Homo sapiens: one gene and its partners. The protein of the gene in region 2 interacts with the protein of the main gene of each other region in a pairwise test. Each region holds a gene or a part of one and is shown on either strand. Other genes may lie near its edges. The genes, in order: BANP, ZMYM6, ZBTB24, ZNF76, FLNA, SOD1 and LMNA.

Region 1 (2,191 bases), on a different chromosome or scaffold from region 2:
GGAAGGCACAGGAACCACAAAGGAAGAGCCAGGAGAAGCCACGAGCCCACGGCCGAGCCCACGGGAGGAAGAGGCCTGGCAACTTCTACTCTAGTTAAGGTCCTGCTTCATTTTATTTTTTAGAGATAGGGTCTTGCTCTGTTGCCCAGGTTGGAGTGCAGTAGTGCAAGCACACCTCACGGCCGCCTCGACCTCATGGGCCCAAGTGATCCTCCCACCTCAGCCTCCCAAGTAGCTGGGACCACCAGTGCACACCACCACGCCCGGCTAAATTTTTTTGAGACGGAGTCTCACTCTGTCACCTAGGCTGGAGCACAGTGGCGCAATCTCGACTCATTGCAACCTCCGCCTCCCGGGTTCAAGCAGTTCTCCTGCCTCAGCCTCCCGAGCAGCTGGGATTACAGGCACCTGCCACCATGCCTGGCTAATTTTTGTATTTTTAGTAGAGATGGGGTTTCACCAGGTTGAGCAGGCTGGTCTCGAACTCCTGACCTCAGGTGATTGGCCTGCCTCAGCCTCCCAAAATGCTGGGATTACAGGCGTGAGCTACCGTGCCCGGCCCCAGCTAATTTTTTTACGTTTTGTAGAGATGGGGGTCTCGCTACGTTGCCCAGGCTGGTCTTGAAGTCCTGGGCTCAAGCAACGCCCCTGCCTCGGCCTCACAAAGCACTGGGATTACAGGCATGAAACACTGCACCTGGTCCAGGTTGTGCTTTTTCAAGACAAATGTCAAATGACACTCGATATACTGTTCCCTGGATGGAGGAGGGGCCTTCCAGGGTAGGATGAGGGGTCAGTATGAGGACTGTCTCCTGCGAGCCCGGCCACAGCTGGGAAGGCCTAACGGGAAGGGGTGAACCTCAGCTGGAATGGAGGAGCCACACCAGGGCCCTGGGGTGGGTGGCTGAAGGCCATGGGAGGTTGGGGTAGGGGGGCCACCGCCTGGGATGCAAAGCCCCTTCCCCCAGACAGCTGGAAAGGCAGCTGGGGACTTGGGTGGGTGGGGACAGTGGGGCACAGGTCTGGGCTGGCTGGGACTCACTTGCCCTCCAAGGACAGTGGCCAGACCTGTGTTCTGGGCAGAGGCTGGTGGAGGTGCTGCCTCTGCTACAGATGGTTCAGGGAGCCTGTGACACCCACAGGCCACCGCGCATTAAGACAAGTGTCTTCCCCTGCAAATGGCACCCCCCTACCCTCCCAACCCACTGCTCCAGGGAACAGGCCCCACTCTCCACTTTGAGGATTGGCCACCCCCACAGGCCAGCTACCTGCCTTCCCTCCTAAGGGAACCCATCTTCTCAGAGCCAGGCCCTCACAGCTGAGCCACAGGTTTTCCTAGAACGAGCTCAAGCGCGTGACCCTGCTCTGACCCATGCAAGATGCAAGACCATTCCCAAGCATGACTGGGGTGGGGGCTTCATGTGGATAAGGAGGCTCAACCAGAAACCTGTCTCTGTTGGGTGCAGTCACGCCTGCAGAGTCACCATGAAGGCCTTCGGTCACTTCCCAGTGGGGCAGAGCTAGCCTGAGGACAAGCTGAGATGGTAAGGCAGAGAGCTGGGCCCTTGGTGACAAGCTAACGCACCCTGCAGTTGTCTGGCCTCAGATGGGCAAACCCGCTCACCACCAAGTCCAACCACGCTGGGGTTTTCTGCAGGGAAAGCGGCCCCTTAAGCACGCCGTCTTCCTTGGCTGTTACGATGGATCCTAATTAAATCATTCACCTGGGGCCTGCCAGGAGGGCATGGTAACAGAGAGAGCTTACAGGAAGCTAGGGGTGTAAACACCAACCATGGGACACAGGTTTGTTCAATTCTGAAATCGGAAAATGACCAGAAACTTATAATGCAGCAGGACGCCCTCAGGCATGGCCCCCACATCTAGTTTCCTGGGCGCGGACCTCACTGCCCTCCTGCAGCGCTCCTATCTGGAACGGCACGGGGGGCTGCCACGCGTCCTCGGCAGGGGCTGAGGCAGCCACGCCTGACTGTTCTTCACGGACAGGCCAAGGTTCACACCACATAAAATAAGCGCTGCCGAACGAGTTTGCCTTCACCATCCCACCCACCCGCTCCTCACTGCCTGTGCGTTCTGCGCCCATGGCCCTCACCGTGCTTCCAGCGCATCTCCAGTGAGGTCGGCGACAATGTGGAACCAAACACCACGCAGAGTACAGGGCGCGCCTCTGCGG
Region 2 (3,500 bases):
ACTCTTTGTGTATGTATTGCAGAGAGGGAGGAGAAAATGGGACAAGTGGATGCTTACAATTCCATGCCAGGAGTCACTGTGTTTCTGACACAGGATGAGAGGAAGGGGTATGTGAATCCCATCAGGCTACTGTTCTTCACCATACCACCTACCCAAACCACAATCCTAGCTTCCATCTTTTTGAAGGGGAGAGACCCAAGGGAGAAAGTGGGAGGGAATGACAGTTTAGGCTAGGATCCTAAATAAAGAAGAAACTGCTGAGACCCAATATCTGGGTTCAGATATTTTGTAGAAATGACCTGGTTGGGCCCCTGGATGAAACAAATTTTTTTCTTTTTAATTCAAATTTAAACTTTCATAAGAACAGGCCTTCAGCAGTTAACACTGTGCCACAGATCGATGCCTAACAGAACCACATGCATAATGTGCTACCTTAGATCATACCTGGAAAGCAACCACACAACTGGAGCTGCAGAAGCTGTATATAGTTCCATTTGACATGGCTAGGTGATACTGAGGGATTGCTGAGGTTTTACAACTATGACATGAAACCTGGACACCTTGGTGACAAAAAATTAAAAACAATGATTAAGTTATACCAATGAACAAACAATACAAAAATGTATTGGGAGAATGAAAAAATTAAATAATCAATAATATACCAAAAAAATCAAGGAACTTTATAAAAATCTGAAATCTAACCACAACTAACCTCTATTAAGTCCCACTTACACAAAAACTAACTTGGAAATTTTAAGTGTTTTTTCTTTCCTCTCACATATGAAATTATAAAATACTGTATATATTGCAACCAAGAAAATCGGGGAAAAACTATTTTCACATAAAAGTCAGTTATTTAAAAGTCAGTCTTGGGTTTTTATTTAACTAAATAGATAAATTTAGCTTGTAACAAAATCAGAGAAAAGCAGTTACGTTTTTCTTCAATAGTTATTAAATCTATAAATTTATCAAATTTAAACATTACCTGAAGAAGTAACAGTCTTAACTCTGTAAGCAGATAAGCAATTAATAGAGCAGAAAAGCTCTGTTTTTCCTGAATCATTTGTAGTCTCAATCATTTCAGCTGAGGGCCTCAATGACTTCCCCAGGGCATATGGAGGAATTTGGGCAGAATTCTATTAAAATAAAATAACATTAGATACCTAGTACAAACATACATATTTACATATTGTTCAAAAAAGTAAAAAGAAAAGCTACCTACAACCACGGTCCTTGGTTGAAATATTTGAGCATGATGATGAAACCACACTATTGGGAGGTGGGAAAATAAGTTCTTCCAGACAACAATAAAATAGAAACTGAAGAAAATTAGTAACTATTCAGATAGAGATCTTAGCAAACAAAACACATGAATTCAAACACAAGTAATGAATTAAATAGTCATTACATACTTTTTAATCACCAATAACCAGAGAAGACCAGCTAACCCATGAACCAAAGGGTCATTCTTGGTATAGTCTTGTACATCAATCTAGAAGAGTCTACCACCTTTAAGGTTACTTAATTTGTGAGATTCTTTAGCAGGAGATAGAAATGATATTTAATGTATATTAATAGAGATCCTACACAACTACCTATTTTTCAAGCTGAGTTTCATAATAAAATCTGCTTATAAGTTTATTCATGTTTTAAGAAATAATAAAAATAGCTACCATTTACATAACCAATATTATAACTTACTGAATGCTTACCATGAGTCAGGCCCCAGGCTAAGAAATTTATATATAGTGTATCACAGAAACCTTTCAACAACAGAGTGAGGCGCTCTCAAAAATTACATTAACAAAAAGTTTAAATTAACAGATGAGCAGAAGAAGTAGGAAATTAAACTCATTTCATCAGGCTCCAAAGTTCAGGCTCCTAACCACTACACTATGCTGTCAGTGATACATTATAAGGTCTCTCAATATGAAAAGAAATTGTAGGAAAATATAAATTGTGAGGTTTCACTACATAATCTTCCTAGTAAAAAGACAGAGTACAATACTAGTAACAAAATTAGAAATGGAACTGATTTTGGGATCATATATAAAATAACATGGATTCTTTTCCTGTGAAAGTAGAACCAGACTGCCAAAAATGGCAAATCTTAAAAAAAGAGATTCTTTTCAGTGATGAATGTCCATATGTCCATTACCAACTGCTCAAAGGAAGCAACAAATCAAACTTGCTAACTGAAAAAAAGTTTAATTATCATTTACAAGATACATCTTTGTTTTTTTTTTTTGTTTGTTTGTTTGTTTTTGAGACAGTCTTGCTCTGTCACCCAGGCTGGACTGCAGTGGCACAATCTCAGCTCACTGCAACCTCCACCTCCCGGGTTCAAGCAATTCTCCTGCCTCAGCCTCCTGAGTAGCTGGGATTACAGGCGCCCGCCACCACGCCCAGCTAATTTTTGTATTTTCAGTACAGACAGGGTTTCACCATGTTGGTCAGGCTGGTCTCGAACCCCTGACCTCGTGATCCACCCGCCTTGACCTCCCAAAGTGCTGGGATTACAGGCGTGAGCCACCGCGCCGGCCTTACAAGATACTTCTTTAAGAAAAACTTTTTAAAACCACAAATTAGTAATAATTAAATTGACACAAGGTGATAATATTTAGTAACCGGCTTAATCCATTATTCATTACAATAAATAAAATTACTTGAAGTATTCTCATGAGACAGTGTTGACCAAATAATTACAATTCATTCCCAAACACATTTTGAAATGAAAAAGACAAGCTTTGTTTAGATTCACTGATTTTATCATCTTAACTCTTGCTTATGGTTTATTTATAATATGGTTTTCTTGCTATCAATACATCACAAAATATTTCATGCTCACAGAAAATCATGAAATTACATTTATGAGGCCGAGGTGTGGTTGCTCATGCCTGTAATCCCGGCACTTTGGGAGGCTGAGGCGAGTGGATGGCTTGAGCTCAGGAGTTCAACACCGGCCTGAGCAACATGGCAAAACCCTATCTCGATTTCAAAAAAAGAAAAGAAATCACATTTGTAAATTCTTAGCTATGAAGGGAGCCTTAAAAAAGGGACCTATTTTACCTATATCAACTTACCACCACAATCATCCCTCACACCATCAGAATCTATCCCATTTTCTGGAAGGGAAATCACATATCAGGATGGACTAATGGGAGGAGCTCACTCTCATTTTGTAGTTCATCCCTGTGCAGCCAAATCAGAAGGAGTGGGCCTAAGTACATGCAACAAATAGATATTCATACCTGCTTGTATGCCGTGACACTTGTTGAACTAAAAACCTTCTGGGATTGGCAAGGACCAGAGCTACTATAGCAATAGCTCCCACAGTTCTCACAACAGTTCATGGTGAGGTTGTTTGTAGAGTGAAATTTTGAAAAACAGGCATCACTACAAAGACCATGTACCACATTTTGATATTTAACTTCAAATCGAGTCTAGGAAATAAACACACACATACACACACAAAATAAGCAGAGCCAGTTAAAAAAAAA
Region 3 (3,500 bases), on a different chromosome or scaffold from region 2:
GCTGTGTTTCACTGAACATTAAAACGAGTGGCGTCAACAATTCTGAGTGCAGACAGGGTGCTGGATGGGGTGGGCAGGATCTGGCTAGACTGGAAAGAAGCCTGGGCCAGGGTACTAGTCTAAATAGTATGAGCAGAAGCTGGTGTCAGAAATGACTACACGGTGTGCACCAGTGACCAAGGATCACTGTCAGGAGTCAGGAGGCCAAGGCAACAGGAGCTATGAAATCCAGGCAGGGGACCTGTGGAGCCTCTGGAAGTTTTTAGCAGAATGACATGCTGAAAGTACTAAGAAAATACACCTGGGAATGATGAGGAGGGTGGGCTAGAGGCAGGAGGACCTCTAACAGGCTATGCACAAGGCCTGGACCAGGAGGTGGCAGGAGGCAGACGGAGAAGGATAAGGTAATAGGACAGGGCCTGAGAGGCATGGGGACCGGAAAGAAGTGTGTTACAAGAGGATTAGACAATAGCGATTAAAGGAAAAGGCAGAGACAGGAGTGTGATGAAAGGTTCCACCCAGGGTGATGTCAACAGAAGTACTGAAACAGCTCCAGGGTGTACTTCCAGACCCTCTTCTCAGCAGTTACTACACCAATCCCACCCACCCAGGGTGATGTCAACGGAAGTACTGAAACAGCTCCAGGGTGTACTTCCAGATCCTCTTCTCAGCAGTTACTCCACCGATCCCACCCCTACCCTTCCCCAGTGACTTAAATCCCGGACCCCACTCCAGATAGGATCGATGAGTCACTGCTTATTGGCATCACAGCTGGATTTCCCATGCCCACCTGCTGAAACCCAGAATAACATGGGGCATGACATGTTAATGACAACATCACCCAGCCCCTGTCCAGCCAGGCACAACAATCACAGTGACACCTCCCATTCCCTCAGCTGTCACATTCACCTGGCAGTCCAGTTCCGTCCGTGTGGACCCCTCAGCATCCTGCCTCCCACTGTGGACCACGGCTTTGTTTTTCTTAAAAAATTACTGTGTTCATTGTAAAAGAATCAAATATTGAAAATACAAAGAATATTAAAACTGCTCCACTATTCTCATCTCTTGAGACAACCAGTTAACAATGGCGAATATCTTTACAGACAAATCTGTTTATTTGCGGTCTTACTGTGTGAGGTCATCCAATGCATGCCGTTTGTCACATCAGTAAAGCCACACCACCATTTTAAAACCCTGTGCTGTGTACCATTGTGTGTACTGCCCCAAATTTACCTATCTAATCCCCTCCTGGGACATTCAGGTGGCTGTTAAGCTTGTTAAGTTATAAACAATGCTGCCTATGATGAATATCCTTAGGCAAACATCTTTTCACAATTGTGCAGTTTATGTTTTGGTAAGTATTGCAAAAGTTCCTTCCAGGGGGTTCCCAAATTATATTCCCACCAACAATAAATAAAGATGTGCATTTCCTCATGTACTTGCCAATCTTGGCAAAAAAGGGACACATGTCCATGATAACTGTGGATAGCATGGTTTGACACCTGTGTACTTGGCATTCCTATATGGTCTTCTCAGCTGTTTCCTGTCCTGTGTTCACACCTCTGCTGTGGCTCTGACCACGCCATACTGTTTCATAGTAGATGGCACGTAGACTCTGTAAGGGCATGTTATGGTGAGGGGCCCCCAGGTCTCAGGAAGATGGGAAGACCCCCAGGTCTCAACGTTAATGGATGGTCTCAACACACAGTTGAAGAGATTTGGGAAGCTTCAACTTCAAGCCACAATGAGGCTGTGAACAGAACTGTGACTTACTGAACTTTATCATTTGTTCCCTGACAGGGCCATCTACCTGTGAGTAGGAACCCTCAGGGCAGAATCAGTGTTTATGGAACACCATCCAGGAACAGGGACACTGGCGGGGTGGGACTGTGCTGTGGGGTCAGAGGTCACTCACCAGGCTTCTCTGTGACCTGGGCTAATTCCCTTGACTTGTTCCCAGCTCACCATGCAATCTTCTGATCACTAACTTGGCTTTCGGGTCACTAATGTGAGGAAGGAGGTGCTGTGGGCAACAGAAAGGTGTAATCCCTCTATTGAGTTGATATATCCTCTGGTTTATCTGTCCTGTGAACTCATTTGGCTTGATTGGGTCCCTGTAAACCTGACCAGTGCCAGGTATGGGGACAAGATGTGAGCAGAAGGGCCTGAGATGTGGTGACCTGGCAGGTACTGCTTGTCTGCCTGACACTTTGCCTCCATGTCAAAATGTGTTCACCTCCCTCACTGGGGATGCACTCCTAGGAAAGGGAACATCTCTAATTTGCCTTTGACTTCTCCAGTGCTTGGTGCAGGACATCTAACCCAGAGAGTTTGTGCCTAAAGATCTAAGAGATGAATGACAGCTCATCTCTAAGAGATGAAGTCTTGGTTTCCAGCTGAGCATGGCCCTGAGAGTAGGACTGGCACTTCTCACTCTGAATGCCCAGGGAGCAGGGAAATGGCACGCCAATGCCCTTCACCAACATTCAAGCAGATTCTCCATGCTGATGCTAGGGACAGATGGGTCATAGTTGCTGCTCTTGAAGAACCCCAATTTTTTGATAGGTTCAATTTCTTTTCATATTTCTAAGTCATGCAAACCACAGAGGCCCGTCTGTCTCCTTTTTAACTCATCACACATCTTCCACTTTCTGTTCTGCTTCTCAAAGTTGACAGGCTGAGAAGAGTTTGCTGGAATTATAGTGGGGGAGGTCTTCTGTTCCTTTTCATCCCCACTTCAAGTCCTACTGCTACTCACAAAGCCCAGAAACCTCACTCCCCCTTATGCTCAGGCAACAGAACCAAGGGGAAGTGCCTCTTCTGGCACTGCTCAGCATGACCAAGCCAGCTCCACGCTCCTCCACCACCGCTGTCTCCCTAGGGAACTCAGCACAGCGCCACCCACTATTTGCAGGCACATGTGCACCTGTGGAAATCCAGAGCTCTGGCTGCATCTCTCCCCCGAATTCTCCAGACCTGGAAATCTAATGATCTACCCCACACCTGCACATGGATGTCAAATAGACACCAACCAGTCCACAATCTAACTCCTGATCTGTTCTTCTTAGTCTTCCCTAGCTTTTCCTCCTCACAGTGGCTTTTGCCTCCTCTTTCAACTCCCACATCCAATCATGAGCGAATCACATGAATTCTTCCCTGGACTATCTCCAGAACTGGACCACCTGACACCACCTCTGCTGCTACTGTGCTGTTCCGAGCCCCACTACTGCACAGCCTCCTGATGGGTCTCTCTGCCTCCACCCTGGCCTCGCCCCCACCTCACAGGGTGGCTAGAGTGACCCTATTACAACCCTAAGTCATGCCATGTCACTCATCTCAGTAAAGCCATCTCCCTCAGAATAAAATCCAATCTTTACTGTGGCCTTCAAAGTACTTCAGCCCGAGTGCACCCTACAACTGTTGAGGGGTACTTTAAAAAACACCAATTCCCAGGCTCTGCCCAGGTGAAGTCAATCAGAATCTTGGCAGCTGGGACAAGG
Region 4 (3,500 bases), on a different chromosome or scaffold from region 2:
AAAGCATCAGCAAGCTACGGCCAGCAGAGTGGGTACTGCTTCAAGGTAGAAAACAAAATGTTGAGAAGAGTTGTCTGAAGAAAAAACTTAGCCTACTATTTCCTCAAACAACCAGAGACTACAATGGAGAGAGGCAGTGGGGAGAACAGCTGACTGACAAGGGCCTCATATCCCATTACAGAGAGGTGACCATACGCCCCAGTTTGCCTGGAACAGTCCTAGTGCATTTATTAATAGCACATTCTTCCACTTTTAAAATGCTGGGTTTGAATAATACATTTTATACTCATCCTAATTAAAGATAAGTCTCTTACAATTTTAGGGCTTCCAGCAGACAGAGACAAAAATGCCTCAGTCAAAAGCTTCAGAGGAGAAGTCAGAGAAGCCTTTCAGGAAAGTGTGGTTCTGGTCTCTGAAGGAGAGCTCTACCCTGAGCAGAGGGAAAATCTGTTGTGAGTGAGTGTGTGTTTGCATATGTGTGTGTGTAAGTGCACACTGCAACACTACAGAGTGGGCAAAGAACAGCCAGGAAGACTGACAGAATAAAGAAATACGTAAGAAGGATAGATATAAGGAAAGAGTGGCTCTCTCAGGTCAGGTGTGGTCACTTGCTTTTTATTCATTTGTTTGACCATTAATTCTCAGTGGAAGACTGAGGCACGGGAACTAACTGGGTCCAAGGAGTAAACACAACCCTAGCTAGAGTTCTAAGTTCTTCCATCCCATGGAGACTGCACTGGAGGGGCAAGACCTGGAGTGGGAAGTCTGCAAACAGAGAGTTTCAGGCTTCAAAAGCATTCTAGAGAAGTTGCGTTCTCAAGAAGATGAAGCCAACAAGAACCCACATGTCACAGACAGCTCTTGACAAGAAACCTTTCCAGAAGGGACCCCCACACACTGTCATATGGAAAGTGCTTACTGATGAGATTAAGGGGACTCCTTAGTCATCATCAGGAAACAGACAACTTAAAATGAAATCAATAAACAACTTATCTGTAAACTTAGGAGCAGAAATATATTCTGAGAGTGTGTTGAAATAAAGGAGGGCAATGTTGCAATGACAGTGCTTCAGGAGGACAGTGACAATCATGGAGTCCAGAAAACGCCAAATGAACAGTAGGAACAAGGCAGTATTTGCCTTGTTCAAGGTGCTGTCCAAGGAAGACACGAATGCTATCTGGCTGCCTGAGAACACTGGCAAGAAAGGAAAAGTGTCCCTGGCCTGCAGGCCTTGCCCTAAACACTTTATTCTGACTCCACACCTACCTTGATTTTAAGTACCTTCAGTGTAAGGATAGAATTGCCAGATAAAATACAGGATGCCCAGGTAAATCTGAATTTCAGATAAACAATACTTTTTTTTTTTTTTTTAGAACTTGGTATTATTATTTTAGTATTTTATAGTATTTAACACCCCCTACTTTTTTTTTAGATGGGGTCTTGCTGTTGTCTAGGCTGACCTCAAACTTATGGCCTCAAGAGATCCTCCCATCTGAACCTCCCAAGTAGCTGAGACTACAGGTGCATGCCACCAAGCCCAGCTTAATCCCACATTTATATATGTCTATCCCTTATAAGGGGTATATGTATGTCCCTAGTATGTGGTATACATACGTCCCTACAACATTTGGGATGTATGTATCCTACAAGAGTATTCATTGTTACGTCCAATTCAAATTTAACTACATGTCCTATATTTTCAATTCTGGCATCCCCTAGTGGGGATTAGGGCATGAGATCTCTGCTTGGGTGTTCCTCTCTGAATCAGGAAGAGTATCTTTTTTTTTTTTTTTTTTTAAGAGATGGGATCTTGCTCTGTCACCCAGGCTGGTGTGCAGTGGTGCAGTGATAGTTCACTGAACCCTCAAACTCCTGGGTTTCAGTGATCCTTCTGCCTCAGCCTCCTGAATAGCTGGGACTAAAGGTGCATGCTGCTGCACCCAGATTATTATTTTTATTATTTTTTTTAGAGACAAGAGTCTTGCTATGTTGCCCAGGCTGGTCTCCAACTCCCGGCCTCAAGTGATCTTTCCATCTCAGCCTTCTGAGTGCTGGGATTATAGACATGAGCCACTATGCCTGGCTTAAAAGAGCATCTTGTACATGGCAGATGCTTAGTAGTTTGAATGTTTGAATATACTTGAATTAAGATGATAAACTGCTTCTAGAAAGCACTAAAAAACTGTGACAGGGGATATCTGAAAAGCAGGGAGTCATAACTAACACTGTGTTCATTCCAGAAATATTTATCAACTGCTTATTACATATTAGGAATTCTGTCTTTGAGAGGTATTGGTTCCTATGACTGGGATTGTCTGACTTGTAGCATTTTATTTTAGAGTTCCCTTTTCATCAAGCACCACAGGAGATTCTAATGCAGAGCAAATTGTGGTGGTGGGCAAGGGTAAGCAGGCGGGAGGGCAAGGTGATGGTGGGACTCTTAGAAATGGACACTCCTTTCCAGAGGCTGAGGGACAGGGCAGGATCCTGAGGTCCCCAGAAATACTTACCTTTGACAGCTTGCTGGACGTAGGCTGTTGTCCCATCACTAAGGGTCACCGTGTGCAGCCCCAAGCTCTCCATGGCAAACTGCTGCTCGTGCACTCAGACATGAAGTTGGCTTCTGGCCAGCACCAAGAGCCACAGCTGAGGTCAGAGATTTCCTTCTGGGTCACAAATCTAAGAAAATAAACAGTATCACATTATGAGTTAACCAGCTTTCTCCTATCGCAAAGACACTCAGGGAAGGAGTTAATGAGGCCAGCCAGCCAAGAAGAAAAAAGATGAATTCTTCAAAGTAGTGAACTATATTGGTTTTTATGAAAAGGGCTCAAAATACACATTATCTAAGAATTCTAAAAGTTAAGCATAGAAGAGAAGCATGCCAATCAAACTGGTCATAAAGTAAGAAATCACTGATCAAAACCCATTTCTAAACTTTCTCCCCTTAGGAAGGAGCCCTGCTGAAGGCAGGCAGTTAACCCCACTGCTGATGGTTCTCTCTGCCTACTCCAACATCTCTCCTGTGCTCGGACCCATTTATCTACTGAGCTTGTTAACCATCCTCAGGGAACATCCCACATGTACCACACGTGGAATAAGTCCTCAACAGAACTCACAATGTGTCCCAACCTTCCAGAACTATTGTACTTCCAGTATCCCCTATCCCAGGGGTGGTATCGCCTTCCACCCAGAACTTCAGGGCGGGGGGGGGGGGGATCATGCTTGAGTCCTCCTTTTCCCTTAAAAGTCCAGGTACTTATTTCAGGCATGTCTCACCTTTCACCTCTGGACAACTATAAGGAGCCTTATAACTTATGTCCTCAGATAAACTTTTGTCTGTTTCCAATTCATTTTCTTTTCTTTCCTTTTTTAGAGACAAAGTATCACTCTGTCGCCCAGCTGGAGTGCAGTGGCTCCATCACAGTTCACTGTAACCTCGAACTCCTGGGCTCAAGTGATCTTCCTGCCTCAGCCTCTTCCAACTCATGTTCTAACAT
Region 5 (3,500 bases), on a different chromosome or scaffold from region 2:
TATTTCCCTCCTCCCCTTTACTCTCACTTAAACAGGGTCAAGGTTGACAGTCTGTCTCAGGAAAAAAAAAAAAAAAAAAGGATTTAGGGCAGGTCTGGAGAAGATGGGGTACCTTTGGGGCCCTCAGAGAGCACAGTGGGTTCTACCCTTAGGGCCTCCCATACCCCAATTACCTTGCTAGGCTTGGTGGGGGCCACAGCTTCCAGAGGAAAGGGGCTGCCAGGCACGGGCACGCCGTCATAGGTCACCTCCACCTCATAGGGCCCTTCCTCACGGGGCAGGAAGCGCACCACACTGTTGTCAGCCCCCAGGCCTGGCTCCACCTTGCAGGGCACCGCTGCACCCGAGGGGCCCACAATCTTGGATGCCACTTTGCCTTGACCACCAGCACCCTTTGATTTGACTGTGAACTCCTGGTCTTTGCCAACGTCCACCTCTGTGGAAACGATGAAAGGAAGGAGAGAGACATGACACCCAGCTCAGCCAATCCCTGGATGTGACAAAGGCCTTTGCGACAAGGGCCCCAACTACTTACTCTCTCCCAGGCCAGACACCTTGATCTTGCTGAGGTCCAGGCTTGGAGATACTGCCACTGAGAAAGGGCTCTTAGGGATGGGATCCCCTCCATAAGTGACATTGACGCCTACTGGACCCTGGGAAGGGTGCAGAAGGGAAGGGGGTATTTAGAGACACCAGAATTGCTCCCCAACCCCCTCCTGGACCTCCATGCCTGTCCTCTCCCAGGTAAGGAATGAGAGTGGGCAGAAAGTCCCTCGGAGCTGTCCCCTAGGCTGCTGCATGAGGAGGCTGGGGACTCGGTGACTGTAGTGGAGGGTGTGGCTACCTGCTGGACAGGCGTGTACTTGACTGTGTAGGTGTTGTCATGGTGGTCGATGATGTCCACATCTCGCACTGCATCCCCCTTGGTGAGTCCTGAGAACTGGACGTCCAGCTTGCCTTTGCCAGCAGCTTTGGCATTTACTGTGAAGTGGGTGGGCTTGCCAAGCTCGACACCTGAGGAACACACAGGGACCATGTAGGGGCACCCTGCCCCAAGCCCTCCTACCCTTGATGCCCCGCAACCTGCCATGGGGTACCTGTCCTCACCAGTGCGACTGAGGCCAGGGCCCTCGGCCTTCACCTTACTGGCGTCATGAGAGGGCTCCACCTTGACTCGGATGGGGCTGGTGGGCGTGGCCTGCAGGCAGTGGGAGGAGAAGGCCTTAGAGGAGGGCAGACGTCATCCGCAATGACATCTTAGCGGCCAGGAGCGCAGCACCCACCTGGTCAGCAAAGAGGACCATAATGGTGTAGCTGCCAGCCCCCCGGGGCGTGTACTTGACCGTGAAGGTGTCATTGTCATTGCGGATGATGTCGAAGTCGATGTCAGCTTCGGCGGGGCCTACCACTCCAGGGGCACACTTGATGCCGATGCTGACGTCCCCTGCGGCGGGGAGAGGAGCGGAGGCTGAGACCTCGCAGGGACACCCCAGCCACCTGCCCTCCCACCCACAGCCAGGCCTTACCCTGGCCAGCCTCGGCGCAGTCCACAGTGAAGTAGGTGGGCTCGTGGGCCTTGAGCCCTGTCTTGGCTACTCCGGGGCCGTATACTTTGACCTTGTTGGGGTGGCTGCCAGCTCCCACATTCACCTGCAGGGCACAGGGGCAAGGGCAAGGGCATGAGCAGCCTGGAGGAGACTCAGAAGCTCCCTCAGCTACACTGGCAGGCACACAAAATGGTCCAGCTGCCTTGGGAAGAGTCTGGCAGTTCCTCAGTTGACCACAGAGGGACTGTGTGATGCTCCGGTTCACTCCGAGGCAACTACCCAAGAGAAATGAAAGCAAATGTCCACGCAAACACCTGGACTCACTGTTAACAGCACTGTTCATGATCACCAAAGGCAAGCTCATCCTCAATATCTGTTAGCAAGTGAACGGAAAAATGGAATGTGGTCTGGCCACACAATGGAGTATTATGCGGCCATAAAAATAAATGAAGCGGCCGGACGTGGTGGCTCATGCCTGTAATCCCAGCACTTTGGAAGGCCAAGGTGGGCGGACCACCTGGGGTCAGGCGGTTGAGACCAGTCTGACCAACATGGAGAAACCCCGTCTCTACTAAAAATACAAAATTAGCTGGGAATGGTGGCGTATGCCTGCAATCCCAGCTACTCAGGAGGCTGAGGCAGGAGAGAATTGCTTGAATCTGGCAGGCAGAGGTTGCAGTGAGCTGAGATCACGTCATTGCACTCCAGCCTGGCAATAAGAGCAAAACTCCGGCTCAAAAAAAAAAAACCAGGATGGGCGCGGTGGCTCATGCCTGTCATCCCAGCACTTTGGGAGGCCGAGGTGGGCAGATCACAAGGTCAGGAGATCGACACCATCCTGGCTAACACAGTGAAACCTTGTCTCTACTAAAAATACAAAAAATTAGCCGGGGGGGTGGCGGGCGCCTGTAGTCCCAGCTACCCGGGAGGCTGAGGCAAGACAATGGTGTGAACCTGGGAGAAAGAGCCTGCAGTGAGCCGAGATCGCGCCATTGCACTCCAGCCTGGGCGACAGTGTGAGACTCCATCTCAAATAAATAAATAAATAAACAAAATAATTATAAAGGAACAAAGTGCCAAGACATGCCAAACATGAACGAAAACACGGAAAACTTCGTGGTGAGCGAAAGAAGCCAGACACAAAAGGCCACATGGCACACAGTTCCATCTATAGAACATGTCCAGGATAGGCAAAGCCACAGCAGAAAGCAGGTTAGTGGTCACCAGGAGCTGTGGGACAGGGGAGTCAGGATGGTGTGCCACAACCACTTGAAATGGACGAATCGTGTGCTACGTGAATGCTATCGAGATGGACTAAAGGCCGGTGGAGGTTGGCTCACCCTGAAGGGGCTGTTGGGGATGCTGACGCCTCCCCAGGACACCATGGCTGTGTGCTTCACCGGCTTCCTGGGCACGTAGGAGCAGCTGTAAGTGCCATTGCCGTTGTCCTTGACCAACGCCTCCACAGGGCAGCCTTCATTGTCCTGTCAGGCAGATAGGAGCAGGTGGCCTGCTGGTCAGTGCCCAGGCCTGGGTGCCCACACCTGCCCTGCCCCCAACACCCGTGGGTGCTCTACCTGGACTTGGACCCGAAGTGGGGCCTTGCCACCGTGCTTGGCATCCACTGTGAACTCTGCTGGCTTGTTGACGGCCACACCTGTCTTCTCCAATCCAGGCCCACGTGCCTTCACCTAGCGGGAGACCACCCAGCTGTCAGGGGGCCAGGTCCAGGCTGCCAGAGCTACAACCCAGGCAGGGTGGCCAGGGACACAGAGTGCCATCCCCACCAGACCCCAAGCAGGAGCAGCAGGGCGAGACTTAGGCCATCACAGCCTGCTCTTTACCCTGTCTGGGTGGAAGTCCTGGGGCGCGTCACGGATGTCAGCCATGAAGGGGCTGAGGCGGATGTCTTCGCTGTTGCACAGCACGTGAACGGCATACTCGCCAGCCTCC
Region 6 (3,369 bases), on a different chromosome or scaffold from region 2:
ATATAATATTTTCTGACTGCTAATTAAAAATACCTGTGATAGCCGGGCGTGGTGGCTTACGCCTGTAATCCCAGCACTTTGGGAGGCCGAGACGGGTGGATCACGAGGTCAGCAGATGGAGACCATCCTGGCTAACACGGTGAAACCCCGTCTCTACTAAAAATGCAAAAAAATTAGCCGGGTGTGGTGGTGGGCGCCTGTAGTCCCAGCTACTCAGGAGGCTGAGGCAGGAGAATGGCATGAACCTGGGAGGCGGAGCTTGCAGTGAGCCGAGATCATGTCACTGCACTCCAGCCTGGGCGACAGAGCGAGACTCGTCTCAAAAAAAAAAAGAAAAAAACTTATGATGGACACTTAAAAACACTCACTGAGTGGGGAGTGGAGAGCAGGGGTCCCAGGGTAGCCTGTTGGACATTTCCAGGGCGACTTTTTCTTTTTTTTTTTTTAAAGTCAAGTGAGTATGCCATATGGAAAAGGGTGTGCGTGGAGAAAAAGCAAGGGGCTCCAGAGTGTAGGATGAGACATACACCTTTTGGGTTAAAAAGGCTGAGGCAGGAGAATGGCGTGAACCCGGGAGGCGGAGCTTGCAGTGAGCTGAGATCATGCCACTGCACTCCAGCCTGGGCGACAGAGCGAGACTCTTGTCTCAAAATAAAAAACGTTTACATGTACATGTATATTCAACATGTACAAATATAACCTATTCAAAAGTATTTACTACATAAATAGGTACTTACATTACCTATTTACTGTAATAGTCAAAGCCTATGAAGTATCTAACACTGATGTGTAGGTACTCACTTTGCTTGCCACTCTATTAGGTGCTTTTTATGTTATTTAATCATGAAGCCTGGCCACAGGGTGCTTGTGCATTGAGTGTGGGAACAAGATTACCATCTCCCTTTTGAGGACACAGGCCTAGAGCAGTTAAGCAGCTTGCTGGAGGTTCACTGGCTAGAAAGTGGTCAGCCTGGGATTTGGACACAGATTTTTCCACTCCCAAGTCTGGCTGCTTTTTACTTCACTGTGAGGGGTAAAGGTAAATCAGCTGTTTTCTTTGTTCAGAAACTCTCTCCAACTTTGCACTTTTCTTAAAGGAAAGTAATGGACCAGTGAAGGTGTGGGGAAGCATTAAAGGACTGACTGAAGGCCTGCATGGATTCCATGTTCATGAGTTTGGAGATAATACAGCAGGTGGGTGTTGTGCTGTGCTGGTGACCCATACTTGTTCACCCTAGTTAGATAAACAGTAGAGTAGCCCCTAAACGTTAAAACCCCTCAACTTGTTTTTGTTTTTGAGAAAGGGTCTTGCTCTGTCGCTCAGGCTGGAGTGCAGTGGCGCTGTGCGATCATGGCTGACCTTAGCCTTGACCTCCCAGGCTCCATTGATCCTCATGCCTTGGCCCGTAGCTGGGACTACAGGTACACACCACCACGCCTGGCTAATTTTTGTATTTTTTTCTAGAGGTGGGGTTTCATCATGTTGCCCAGGCTGGTCTTGAACTGCTGGGCTCAAGTGGTCTATCCTCCTCGACCTCCCAAAGTGCTGGGATTACATGTGTGAGCCACTGTGCCTGGGAAAACCCTCAACTTTTCTTTTAAAAAAGAGGTCAACTTTATTGTATATAAGCACTGTGCTAAAATTGCAGGAACTGGGACCATATCCTGATTTTTGTAATAATGCCAGCAGAGTACACACAAGAAAAGTAACTGCACTAGATTGTGAAGACTGGGGTGGACCTGCTTCTGAAGGTCCAGTGCCCTTTGTCTTAAGATTTGGTGTAGTGTGTCTTTAGAAACCAAAAAAAGAGAAGAAGATCAACCTTAAGATTAGCCACAAAACTGGGCTTTGATACCTAGGTGTGGAAAAGAAAGGGAAAGAGTTGATGTTTTGTCTTACAGCATCATTGTAGAAGAGGGTGTTTTTTTGTTTGTTTGTTTTTTGAGACGGAGTCTTACTCTGTGGCCCAGGCTGGAGTGCAGTGGCGCGATCTCGGCTCACTGCAAGCTCCGCCTCCCGGGTTCATGCCATTCTCCTGCCTCAGCCCCCTGAGTAGCTGGGACTACAGGTGCCCGCCACCCCGCCTGGCTAATTTTTTGTATTTTTAGTAGAGACGGGGTTTCACTGTGTTAGCCAAGATGGTCTCTCTCCTGACCTCGTGATCCGCCTGTCTCAGCCTCCCAAAGTGCTGGGATTACAGGCATGAGCCACCGCACCCAGCCAGAAGAGGGTGTTTTTTAAAGAAGGCAAATAGGAAATAAAAACTTGGGCTCTTAACTTTTGTAATGATCCCAGGTGTTTGAGCTGGGGGTTGAGGGTGGGTGCCTCGAGCAAAGGGGCTGCATTTATTTGCATAATGCCATGTAAGAGTAGCTCTACACCCCAAACACAGGCTTCTTAGTGGGACCAAAGTATGATACAAACTGAAGATGGAATGCAGAGGATTATTGGTACTTTGGAATATGCTTAAAAAAAATTTTTTTAAAGTATTTTTAAAAAATCAGGCAACCCCTGAACCAGAGTAGGTTCAGAGAAACTGCCAAATTTTATTTTCTTAATTTGGGATTGGAAGCAAGTTAACAGAAGTTTATGAGTTAAGTTGCATTTAGTGATCTTTTGCCATATTTGAGTAATAATCTGATTTTTTTGTTTATAGATTTCTTCTTAAATTAACTTTATTCATCTTGCTAATTTAGTTTCAAATAGTGATTTGTAATGATCAGATTTGATCCATTTCTGTAATTGCTGAAATTCCCCCGAGTTGCTTTTTGGCTTTACCGCCTCTGGTCTGGGAGGTGATTGCTCTGCTGCTTCCTGTAACTTGCCTGCCTTTCTCCCTGTGTGGGACTCCTGCGGGTGAGAGCGTGGCTGAAGACAGCCGTGTTATGAAAGGGCCTCCTGTGCTGTCGAGGTTGTGCTCTGTGAATGTCATCCCCTGGTGCACAGCAGCACCTTCTACACAGGATACAGTTGGAATGCCGCCCCCTCGAGTTGTGTAAGGCAGCAGCCTTGGCCCTTGCACATAAGATGCTGTTGAATATTCTGCCTGCACCAAGTAAAGGGCACAGATAGAACTGCTTGGCATATGTTGCTGGGGAGATGAGTTTTTTGTAAAGTATACTACGTTCTTAAGAATTTGGATCATAACCATGGGATTTTAATAATAGAAAAACTGTTGAAGATCAGTCTGGTCCCTTATTTTTACAGTGAAGAAGCCAAAGCCCAGAGAAGGGTGTTAACTTTACAAGTGTCAGACAGTAGTTAGAACTTGGTGGGGTTTTTTTTTTTTTTTTTTTGAGATGGAGTCTTGCTCTGTTGCCCAGGCTGGAGTGCAGTGGTGCGATCTCAGCTCACTGCAACCTCTGCCT
Region 7 (3,500 bases), about 120 Mb from region 2:
GAGAGGAACAGCAACCTGGTGGGGGCTGCCCACGAGGAGCTGCAGCAGTCGCGCATCCGCATCGACAGCCTCTCTGCCCAGCTCAGCCAGCTCCAGAAGCAGGTGATACCCCACCTCACCCCTCTCTCCAGGGGCCTAGAGTCTGGGCCGGATGCAGGCTGGAAGCCCAGGGTTGGGGGTGGGGGTGGGGGTGGGAGGTTCCTGAGGAGGAGAGGGATGAAAAGTGTCCCCACAACCACAGAGAAGGGTCGCAGGATGTGGAGTCAGATGGCCTGTGTGCTGTTTCTGTACACTCTTACCTCACCTTCACTTCTCAGGGCTTTGGTTTTCCCATTCGAAAATGGAGGCTGTTCTTAATCTCCCTAACTCAGAGTTGCCACAGGACTCTGCAATGTGAGGTGTTAAAAGCATCAGTATTTTTCTAGTTGGCTGTGCTATTTGTGACAGGAGAAAAAGTCTAGCCTCAGAACGAGAGGTTTCAGTTAGACAAGGGGAAGGACTTCCCAGTTGCCAGCCAAGACTATGTTTAGAGCTTGTGATGTTCAGAGCTGGCTCTGATGAGGGCTCTGGGGAAGCTCTGATTGCAGATCCTGGAGAGAGTAGCCAGGTGTCTCCTACACCGACCCACGTCCCTCCTTCCCCATACTTAGGGCCCTTGGGAGCTCACCAAACCCTCCCACCCCCCTTCAGCTGGCAGCCAAGGAGGCGAAGCTTCGAGACCTGGAGGACTCACTGGCCCGTGAGCGGGACACCAGCCGGCGGCTGCTGGCGGAAAAGGAGCGGGAGATGGCCGAGATGCGGGCAAGGATGCAGCAGCAGCTGGACGAGTACCAGGAGCTTCTGGACATCAAGCTGGCCCTGGACATGGAGATCCACGCCTACCGCAAGCTCTTGGAGGGCGAGGAGGAGAGGTGGGCTGGGGAGACGTCGGGGAGGTGCTGGCAGTGTCCTCTGGCCGGCAACTGGCCTTGACTAGACCCCCACTTGGTCTCCCTCTCCCCAGGCTACGCCTGTCCCCCAGCCCTACCTCGCAGCGCAGCCGTGGCCGTGCTTCCTCTCACTCATCCCAGACACAGGGTGGGGGCAGCGTCACCAAAAAGCGCAAACTGGAGTCCACTGAGAGCCGCAGCAGCTTCTCACAGCACGCACGCACTAGCGGGCGCGTGGCCGTGGAGGAGGTGGATGAGGAGGGCAAGTTTGTCCGGCTGCGCAACAAGTCCAATGAGGTAGGCTCCTGCTCAGGGTCTAAGGGGATACAGCTGCATCAGGGAGAGAGTGGCAAGACAGAAGGATGGCATGTGGAGAGAGGAACATCCTTGCCCTCAGAGGGTGGACCAGGGTGAGCCTGTATATCTCCTCCACACTCTGGTTCCAGGCCTGGCTCCTGGACTCTTTGGCTGTGAGACCTTGAGCAGGTTATTTAACCTCTCAGAGCATCAGTTTCCTCATCTGTAAAATGGGGATGAATACTGATCCCTAAGTCTTTGAGTTGTCAGGAAGATGAAAGATAAGGTATCCGTGTGCCTGGTGCTGCGTATGTGTCCACAGATCATGGCTATTATCCCCGGGGGAAGGGCAGTGACAGGGGTGTGTGTAGATGGAAGGAGAGGCCTCAATTGCAGGCAGGCAGAGGGCTGGGCCTTTGAGCAAGATACACCCAAGAGCCTGGGTGAGCCTCCCCGACCTTCCTCTTCCCTATCTTCCCGGCAGGACCAGTCCATGGGCAATTGGCAGATCAAGCGCCAGAATGGAGATGATCCCTTGCTGACTTACCGGTTCCCACCAAAGTTCACCCTGAAGGCTGGGCAGGTGGTGACGGTGAGTGGCAGGGCGCTTGGGACTCTGGGGAGGCCTTGGGTGGCGATGGGAGCGCTGGGGTAAGTGTCCTTTTCTCCTCTCCAGATCTGGGCTGCAGGAGCTGGGGCCACCCACAGCCCCCCTACCGACCTGGTGTGGAAGGCACAGAACACCTGGGGCTGCGGGAACAGCCTGCGTACGGCTCTCATCAACTCCACTGGGGAAGTAAGTAGGCCTGGGCCTGGCTGCTTGCTGGACGAGGCTCCCCCTGATGGCCAACATCGGAGCCAGCTGCCCCCAACCCAAGTTTGCCAATTCAGGGCCCCTTTCTAGAGCTCTCTGTTGCAGGCTCCAGACTTCTCCACCCAGTAGGCAAACCAAAAGATGCTTCCTCAACAGCACAAGGGGTGGAAGTTAGACAGTGAGGATTGTTAAAGGCAGAGCCATACTCCTACCCGGAGAGCTTGACAGTGTCCCTCTGGGGTGGAAATGAGTTCCTTAGCTCCATCACCACAGAGGACAGAGTAAGCAGCAGGCCGGACAAAGGGCAGGCCACAAGAAAAGTTGCAGGTGGTCACTGGGGTAGACATGCTGTACAACCCTTCCCTGGCCCTGACCCTTGGACCTGGTTCCATGTCCCCACCAGGAAGTGGCCATGCGCAAGCTGGTGCGCTCAGTGACTGTGGTTGAGGACGACGAGGATGAGGATGGAGATGACCTGCTCCATCACCACCACGTGAGTGGTAGCCGCCGCTGAGGCCGAGCCTGCACTGGGGCCACCCAGCCAGGCCTGGGGGCAGCCTCTCCCCAGCCTCCCCGTGCCAAAAATCTTTTCATTAAAGAATGTTTTGGAACTTTACTCGCTGGCCTGGCCTTTCTTCTCTCTCCTCCCTATACCTTGAACAGGGAACCCAGGTGTCTGGGTGCCCTACTCTGGTAAGGAAGGGAGTGGGAACTTTCTGATGCCATGGAATATTCCTGTGGGAGCAGTGGACAAGGGTCTGGATTTGTCTTCTGGGAAAGGGAGGGGAGGACAGACGTGGGGCATGCCCGCCCTGCCTCTCTCCCCCATTCTTGTTGCATGCATATCCTCTCATTTCCCTCATTTTTCCTGCAAGAATGTTCTCTCTCATTCCTGACCGCCCCTCCACTCCAATTAATAGTGCATGCCTGCTGCCCTACAAGCTTGCTCCCGTTCTCTCTTCTTTTCCTCTTAAGCTCAGAGTAGCTAGAACAGAGTCAGAGTCACTGCTCTGGTTCTCTGTCCCCAAGTCTTCCTGAGCCTTCTCCCCTTTTATGTCTTCCCTCTCCTCCTCCGGGCCCCTAGCCTCCCAAACCCCCATTGCCCGCTGGCTCCTTGGGCACAGAACCACACCTTCCTGCCTGGCGGCTGGGAGCCTGCAGGAGCCTGGAGCCTGGTTGGGCCTGAGTGGTCAGTCCCAGACTCGCCGTCCCGCCTGAGCCTTGTCTCCCTTCCCAGGGCTCCCACTGCAGCAGCTCGGGGGACCCCGCTGAGTACAACCTGCGCTCGCGCACCGTGCTGTGCGGGACCTGCGGGCAGCCTGCCGACAAGGCATCTGCCAGCGGCTCAGGAGCCCAGGTGGGCGGACCCATCTCCTCTGGCTCTTCTGCCTCCAGTGTCACGGTCACTCGCAGCTACCGCAGTGTGGGGGGCAGTGGGGGTGGCAGCTTCGGGGACAATC

The links.
Region 1: the proteins of ZMYM6 (region 2) and BANP interact in binary tests that used the Homo sapiens proteins (3 or more experiments, as listed by UniProt).
Region 3: the proteins of ZMYM6 (region 2) and ZBTB24 interact in binary tests that used the Homo sapiens proteins (3 or more experiments, as listed by UniProt).
Region 4: the proteins of ZMYM6 (region 2) and ZNF76 interact in binary tests that used the Homo sapiens proteins (3 or more experiments, as listed by UniProt).
Region 5: the proteins of ZMYM6 (region 2) and FLNA interact in binary tests that used the Homo sapiens proteins (3 or more experiments, as listed by UniProt).
Region 6: the proteins of ZMYM6 (region 2) and SOD1 interact in binary tests that used the Homo sapiens proteins (3 or more experiments, as listed by UniProt).
Region 7: the proteins of ZMYM6 (region 2) and LMNA interact in a two-hybrid assay, tested with the Homo sapiens proteins (one large-scale study listed by BioGRID).

What each region holds. Positions count from the first base shown.
Region 1 is NC_000016.10:88,073,434-88,075,624, reverse strand, and holds part of BANP (protein BANP), read right to left. Parts: intron 1-2,191. UniProt on the Homo sapiens protein: Controls V(D)J recombination during T-cell development by repressing T-cell receptor (TCR) beta enhancer function. Binds to scaffold/matrix attachment region beta (S/MARbeta), an ATC-rich DNA sequence located upstream of the TCR beta enhancer.
Region 2 is NC_000001.11:35,011,446-35,014,945, forward strand, and holds part of ZMYM6 (zinc finger MYM-type protein 6), read right to left. Parts: intron 3,444-3,500; coding exon 3,252-3,443; intron 1,137-3,251; coding exon 986-1,136; intron 561-985; coding exon 445-560; intron 1-444. UniProt on the Homo sapiens protein: Plays a role in the regulation of cell morphology and cytoskeletal organization.
Region 3 is NC_000006.12:109,469,720-109,473,219, forward strand, and holds part of ZBTB24 (zinc finger and BTB domain-containing protein 24), read right to left. Parts: intron 1-3,500. UniProt on the Homo sapiens protein: May be involved in BMP2-induced transcription.
Region 4 is NC_000006.12:35,280,235-35,283,734, reverse strand, and holds part of ZNF76 (zinc finger protein 76), read right to left. Parts: intron 2,680-3,500; 5' UTR 2,584-2,679; coding exon 2,511-2,583; intron 1-2,510. UniProt on the Homo sapiens protein: May be involved in transcriptional regulation.
Region 5 is NC_000023.11:154,361,135-154,364,634, forward strand, and holds part of FLNA (filamin-A), read right to left. Parts: coding exon 3,392-3,500; intron 3,239-3,391; coding exon 3,125-3,238; intron 3,032-3,124; coding exon 2,888-3,031; intron 1,651-2,887; coding exon 1,527-1,650; intron 1,445-1,526; coding exon 1,284-1,444; intron 1,199-1,283; coding exon 1,108-1,198; intron 1,015-1,107; coding exon 845-1,014; intron 654-844; coding exon 536-653; intron 437-535; coding exon 174-436; intron 1-173. UniProt on the Homo sapiens protein: Promotes orthogonal branching of actin filaments and links actin filaments to membrane glycoproteins. Anchors various transmembrane proteins to the actin cytoskeleton and serves as a scaffold for a wide range of cytoplasmic signaling proteins.
Region 6 is NC_000021.9:31,662,693-31,666,061, forward strand, and holds part of SOD1 (superoxide dismutase [Cu-Zn]), read left to right. Parts: intron 1-1,097; coding exon 1,098-1,194; intron 1,195-1,613; exon of another isoform or gene 1,614-1,790; intron 1,791-3,369. UniProt on the Homo sapiens protein: Destroys radicals which are normally produced within the cells and which are toxic to biological systems.
Region 7 is NC_000001.11:156,135,211-156,138,710, forward strand, and holds part of LMNA (lamin), read left to right. Parts: coding exon 1-102; intron 103-650; coding exon of another isoform or gene 651-690; coding exon 691-911; intron 912-1,003; coding exon 1,004-1,226; intron 1,227-1,710; coding exon 1,711-1,818; intron 1,819-1,902; coding exon 1,903-2,022; intron 2,023-2,443; coding exon 2,444-2,533; coding exon of another isoform or gene 2,534-2,554; exon of another isoform or gene 2,555-2,656; intron 2,657-3,277; coding exon 3,278-3,500.